Homo sapiens: one gene and its partner. The protein of the gene in region 2 purifies or fractionates together with the protein of the main gene of each other region. This does not show direct contact. Each region holds a gene or a part of one and is shown on either strand. Other genes may lie near its edges.

The links. Proteins that work in one complex are often made in the same cells at the same time.
Region 1: the proteins of PAIP1 (region 2) and RBM45 purify together in Homo sapiens (affinity purification with mass spectrometry; 2 studies listed by BioGRID and IntAct, with this or other methods). This does not show direct contact.

What each region holds. Positions count from the first base shown.
Region 1 is NC_000002.12:178,115,437-178,118,936, reverse strand, and holds part of RBM45 (RNA-binding protein 45), read right to left. Parts: intron 2,676-3,500; coding exon 2,553-2,675; intron 883-2,552; coding exon 756-882; intron 1-755. UniProt on the Homo sapiens protein: RNA-binding protein with binding specificity for poly(C). May play an important role in neural development.
Region 2 is NC_000005.10:43,550,578-43,554,077, forward strand, and holds part of PAIP1 (polyadenylate-binding protein-interacting protein 1), read right to left. Parts: intron 1-3,500. UniProt on the Homo sapiens protein: Acts as a coactivator in the regulation of translation initiation of poly(A)-containing mRNAs. Its stimulatory activity on translation is mediated via its action on PABPC1. Competes with PAIP2 for binding to PABPC1.

The DNA of each region.
Region 1 (3,500 bases), on a different chromosome or scaffold from region 2:
ATTACTGCTAGCTAAATGAGAAATTTAGAAGGATCTAAGAGAAAATCTGGGTATGTACCTTAGGGGTATCTAAGAATTCTACTGATTAACAGTAATTCTTTCCAGTAAGTATATATTTTTATAATGTCCTAAAATCCAGTAATTTAATTACTCTACATATCATTTCTAAAGGTCAATATACCTAACTAGAAGTATACCAACAAAGAATATTCTCTTTGACATCTTTAAAATTCTTATTCTTTATATATACAGCAACATCAGAAGATCACATTCATGTCACTCTAGCTTGAAATTAACCCTATCTATATCAGTTACCTATGTTAGCACATCTTATAAATCTTACCCTTAACCTATAGGTTTATTAGTTATACTTTATAGTCTTTGGGATGTAGATCAAATATAAACAAATATAAAGAATATTTTAAAAACCTTGAAAAGGTAAGTCAAGTTTTTAATACTTAAAATTCTAAAATACACTTAAAAAACCCTAAAAACCTATAAAAATAATACCCAAAGTATGCATTTCACTTACTAAGTTAATGTAGTTGCTCTTATTTCTTCAAGATAGTGCCTCAATGAATGTTTAATCATAACCCCAAAATATTTTTCTTCCTTGGACTGTAAATATTTAAATACCCACTGCTAAAATTACATTAGCAGATACAGTTATTAGCAAAAACTAATATTAAATTCAGCTATTTAGAATAATCAGAATTTTTTACAAAAGTTTTTAACAATGTTAAACACATCCTTACTTCGATCACAGTTTTCTATTGCTTGGGCAGCTTGTGATGGTTTTAAGTATCGTACGTAGCCCAAACCTTTACTTTCTCCAGTCACTTTATTCTTAATAATGCTGCAATACTCGATATCTCCATACACCTAAGAGAGTTAAAAGACATGATTTTAGGGGACTTAAAATTAATTGAACAGAGTATTTCAGAACTAAAAATTTGTTTATATGTGACCCTTGCATGCAAACAAAGAAATAGGCAGTATAAAATATGCAGATATTGCATATTTGTATTTGCAAATATGCTTATTTCATAGATAAGGAAGCTGGGCTTTAGAGAAATCAAAGAGGGACAAAGTCACAGAAGAGTAAGAATTTGTACATGGTCTGGATAGCTCCAAAGTCTTGCTCAACAGTGGTTAAGAGCCAGAGCTCTGGAATTAAACTTTCTAGATTGAAATCCTGAATCAACCACTCATTAATTAGGCAGTTTACTTATTCTCTCTGTGCCTACCTCTTTATTAAAGAGGCTAGCAGTAGTATCTACCTCACAGGGTTGTTTAAGGGTTAACTGAAGTAAAACATGTGAAGTGCTTACATGGGGCTTGGAACATACTCAAAGAACATTAGCTATTATTACTTGTCTGTCTTCTAACAGGAACATAAATGATTGTGTATTCTTTTGAAGGAGTGCTTTTCAAAGGGTATTTCTAAAATATGCTGGTTCACTCAGAAAGTTACTATTCTGAGAAACATGCAGTAGTGTTTACTTTCAATGTTCAAAGAAATATGGAATATAATTGGTATTTATTATTTATTTTATAAATTCTTATGTAATCAATTAGCAACTTAATTACTATACATTAAAGTGTTATATTTGTTCATTCAGGAAAAGAAAAATTTATAAATATTTAAGGTAAAAAACATTTTCCTTACTACTGGAGGATGTATAAAATATACGTTTTTGGTATTTGTTATTTTTGAAGTATTTCATTGAATTCTCAATTGGGGTAGGAGAGAAAGTTTGAAAATTACTTTTTACTGCTTGTTTTCTTTCTTGCTTGTTGCCACCCAATTCATGGGAGGATTAGTAGAAAAAAGATAAAAAACTACAATTCAAAACAATTAAAAAATTGCTTTTTAATAATTTGTGTGAAAGCTCATCACTGCATAAGTTAATGGCTAAAAAGACATAAAATTATCCTCAAATTTCACTTATATAGGTCAGAGCTATATTTACGTTTTCTTCTTTAAATATAATTCCTTCAAAGGCCCAATTTTAGGACAAAAACTCTTCAAAGAATAAGCCTTTCTGTGAATGAGTACCATGTCAACACACCATAGGCCCGTTCTCAATACTAGATAATACAGTTCACACACTCAGGTCTGCCTGATTCGCCTCTACATGCCAGGCAATAGAGGGGAGTGATAAAAGCGTGCTTTGAAATTTTAAAGACCAAGAGCAGGCTCCAGACTCCGACAGCCTGGGTTTAAATCATAGCTCTACCACCTACTAGTTGTGTGACTTTACTTAAAAGTTTCTGAGCTTTATGCTTCATTTCTGCGAATCTCTACTTTCACAATAAAGTAGGGAGAGACTACCATTACTATTTTCCAGCTTTTATATATTCTTTAATTTTAAAAACTAATTTATGCTAGGTTTAATATTTAAAGAGTAGATTGAAATTGATGAAAGCAGTTATGTAATTCCCCAAGACTACTCTATTGACCTTATTCCAACAACATTTCAGATTTAGTACCCATACAACCTATGCAGGACTATGAGTTATCACATATGCTAGCTGATTAGAATAAATACCTTAAATTTTTCCCGCAGATCTTCTTCTGTGTAGGACTTTGGTATCATAACAAAGATTCTTGTAAGTTCTTCATCTTCAACATCTCGGTGACTTCCAGATGATCGGGACTGAGCAATGAAAACCTAAGAAACAAACAAAACTCCCAAAATAAAATAATGTCAACTATTTTCCCATTTCTTAAATTTTTTCAAAAGCAATTATTCTTGCAATGACTTTTTTTTAATCTTTGAGACAGGGTCTCAAAGAAAAAAAAAAGCAGGCTGCAGTGCAGTGGTGTGATCATGGCTCACGGCAGTCTCAACATTCTAGGCTCAAGTGATCCTCCCACCTCAGCCTCCCAAGTAGCTGGGACCACAGGCACACACCACCACACCCAGCTAATTTTTTAATATTTGTAGAGACAAGGTCTTGCTATGTTGTCCAGGATGGTCATGAATTCCTGGGCTCAAGTGATCCTCCCACTTTGACCTTCCAAAGTGCTGGGATTACAGGTGTGAGCCACTGTGCTGGGCCTGCAATGACTTTTTTTTATGAGATAATACCAATCTCTGCATTGTGTTTTTCCCAAATGTATTTCTACTTTTGCATTTATTTTTAGCCAGAGTAATTTGAAGAAACGTAATACAATTAATTAAAACACCATAAACAAGGGCACTTGCATTGTTTGTTTCTTTTTCCTTTAAAGGGGTCTCTATATCTTGGTCTCTGATCCACTGCTGGTAAAGGGGGCTCTGTATCATTAAAGCATGAGAAAACTGGAACTTATGAAATTCCACAGTAGGAAGCAGCAACCAAGAAAACCACAGTGTTAGAGACATATCCCTTTATAGTCTACTTCTAGTTATTCCTTCAATAAATCTATACTATATGTCAAGCACCATATGAGTACAACTATTGAGTAACATGGAAATGGCCCACTAGAGTCTTGTGGCTGATATCAGTAATAA
Region 2 (3,500 bases):
TTGTTTAACCTAGAACATTTTGAGGTAAGCATCACTATCCTCCCTGCATAGAAGAAACAGGCACAGAGTAGTTAAGTCACTTTGGTTATTCATTCAAAATGGTGTGGCTGCTGAGTACCTACTAAGTGCCAAAGACTGTCTTAGGGGATGGGATACTGCCATGACATGAATATCTGCCATGAATAAAGCAGACAAGGCTCTCCTCTCATGGAGCTCATACCCCATGATGGAAGACACATTCAGAAGTTGAAATATACTACAAAAAAAAAAAAAAAAAAAAAAGCAAAAAGCCAAGTAGAGATTCTTAGAGTTAATATATAAACTAAGAAAGAAAAAAAGATCCAGCCATACAAATATCTAAGGAAAGATATTCTCTTTCTATGGGCACAAGAAGCACACAGGCCCCAAGGAGGCCTAATAACTTTGAAAAAGACAATAACTAGAATACAGAAACTGAGGATGGGTGGTAACTAATGAGGTCAATGAGGCAGATAAGGAGATCTTAGAGGGCTTTGGGGGCCAAATTAAGGAAACTGGCTCTTAAGGAAGTAGGAAAAACAGGATGGGGGAAAGAGGGTTTGAACAAGGAAGGACCATGCACCAACTTAAGTGACTGTGCATGGTCACAAAACTGATTAGAAGAACTGAGCGCAGAACAAAGCCTATATTTTTAACCTCTCTGTGAAACTCAAAATAAAGGACAAAAGCTTAAAACCCAATTTTATGTACAAAGATGTTCATTGCCAAAAAATCCACGTAACAATCCATTAACAAGGAATTGGTTAAATACATTATCATATATCTGTATAATGGAATATTATAGCCATTTAAGAAAACAAGAGACAACAGTACTTACCTCTAGAGTGAGAAAATGTTCCCATTATAAATATTGACATTATAAAGTTGTGAAAGCAGTTAGGCATAATTGTACACATTCATATACTTAATGTTAACTACATACATGCGTGAATTTTATAACTAAAAACTAGTCTTAAGTTTTTGATATACAGTTACTAGTTTTACAGACTTGTAGTATCCTACCACTATTAATGACAAGGAACAGCAGAAAGGCAAAGGTACGGGTCCCAGCTGAAAGTACTAATTTCCTGTTTCCATCAAATGTCATTCTTCGTGGCAAAAATGCTGCTTAGAGCGCTGATTTGCAATCTTTTTTTTTTTTTTTTTAAAGTCAACAGAACTCTCTTTTAAGAAAATGTAAAATCTGATCAGTAAAAGAAGAAAGTAGAACTGCTCTGAATATAGCAGAACAGAGGATCCAGAGCCTGCCATTTTAAGCAAAAAAAGGAGGCATAGAGTATTTGGAACAGACAGGCACTCCAACGTGTTTGAATCAAAGCCTGCATTACTTCTCTAGCACCAGATTTTTTAAAGCCACAAATTTCTTCAGTCTTCAATGTGGAGTCAAATGGCTTCCAAACAGAGATATTTTCAAGTTTTATTTTTCTTAGAATTCTATGGGAGATTGGGAGAAATAGAAAATGTACTTTTTCATGGTAGGTACTCTATATACATTGTCAAGAGATGAGAACCTATTACAGAACCGTGGGAATAAAAGAAAACTGATCAGACACTACAGAGAGTGAATATAGTCACGACTACTTTAGCTAGCTGGATTGAATTAAGGCAAGGGTGTGCAGGAGAGGTGAGTCAATATGCCACCAAGTTCTTAGTGTAAGCAGCTAGTTAGAAGAGATTCGCATGAGATAAATAATTCTTACACTGTGTATAGATTTTATACTTGCATTTGAATGTGAGGTCCTCAAGAAGTGGTCAAATAAATGAAAATGTATGCCTAGAGTTCACTAGAGTTCAAAGGAATAATTAGATGTCAGGGTTATTAGCACATAAATAAGTGATAGATTCTATGGAATAGGCGGGATTAGCAAAGGAGGTAATAAAATGGAAGAAAGAACGTCACCAACTGTCATCTGAGGGGAAAAGGAATGATCTGCAAGTTGGGAGGATAAAGTACTGCCACAGAAGCCAAAGAGGTAGGGGAGAAGAGATGCTCATAACAACAAATGCTACAGAATAAATTCATAGGTTGAAATCTGGAAGAGAATTATCATTGCAGAGTCTCGGGAGTGAAGGAGATTATACTCAGAGAGAAAAAAGAACAAAACTAGTACCTCAAATACTTAGTTCTTAAAACAATGGGAGGGAGCTTCTGATAGACTAAAAAGGTACCTTTGCACCTAGCACAGGACCTGGCACATGGGGATTTATAAACTGAATAGATCCTACAGTGCTCAAAGTTTTAAAATGAGATTTAGGAAGATAAATTTAAAAATCGGAAGAACATCAGTCACAAAAATAGTATCAATACAATTAGGGAGATCAGACTGCAGAGGTCTGAACAGTGAGAGACAGTGAATAATTTTACCTATTGGAGAATGATACTACTGCAAGGCAGAACAAAAACTGGGAAGTAACTTGAAGAGGGATTCTCTTAGAAAAAAAGCTCGTTTTTTTGCAGGGGAGGAAGGGGACTTCTGTCTCTTCATCAATGCTTTATGAATTCCTATGTTAAATTTTTGGCTCTGGTAAGTGAACTGTGACAAATATTCAAGGCATAATGGTTTGTCTGAGAAGAAATAATGGCCAGGGATAAATGGATATAGCAACTCACTGGTAAGAAGACATGGAAAGTAGGAAATTCTAGCAGCAGGATTAGAGGAAGAACTGAAGATAAAAGGGCTTGGTGCCTTGAAAGAGTTAAGAAAGCACAGCAGAAGACTACCATAAAGGCTGTTAGAAAAAGGATACCAGGAAATAGATTTTCATGTGTAGAACAAAAGCAGATTCAATAAATGTCTGCAAACTGAGCCAGGAGACTACTAGAATAGAGACTCCATGAAGACAGGAATTTCTGTCCATTTTGTTTGTTGCTGTATCACCGGTGCTTGACTCATGATAAGTACTTGACTATTTGTTGAATGAGTGAATGTAGCTAACTTTGGATTATGGCTACTAAAAGGAAATGTTTCCTTTGCAACAAGAGCTTATCCTAAGAGTCGGGGGAAAAAAGGATCCTGCTGTTCTATGACTAATTGGATTGAGAAAAACTCTCTTAGCCTTAACTATGGGTAAAGATTAGGGTAAACCAGTAAGGCTAGAGAATATACCAGAACAGGGGTAGTAAGCCTGAATGCCTGTAGAATTCAGGTAGATTACAAATGAATGAAATAAGCCAGAAAGCAAATTAGAGCTCACAGACTCCATCTAAAGAGAATGCCTCTACTCAGCTCCAACCAATTTTTGCTGTATCAAAATGCCAGTCCACTAAGGCCAGATTTTATGACAAACCAGAACATTCAAGTTTCTAATATCTAATTTAGGTATTGGTTAATTAAATAAAACAACTTAAAGAAAAAACAAACCCATTCAGGGCTAGAGAAGACACCTGCAGGCCACACAGGTTTCCAGGTGCCAGGCTGCAATCTGTTTTGGTAAATTGAGCACAGGAGGTGCTGATCTAT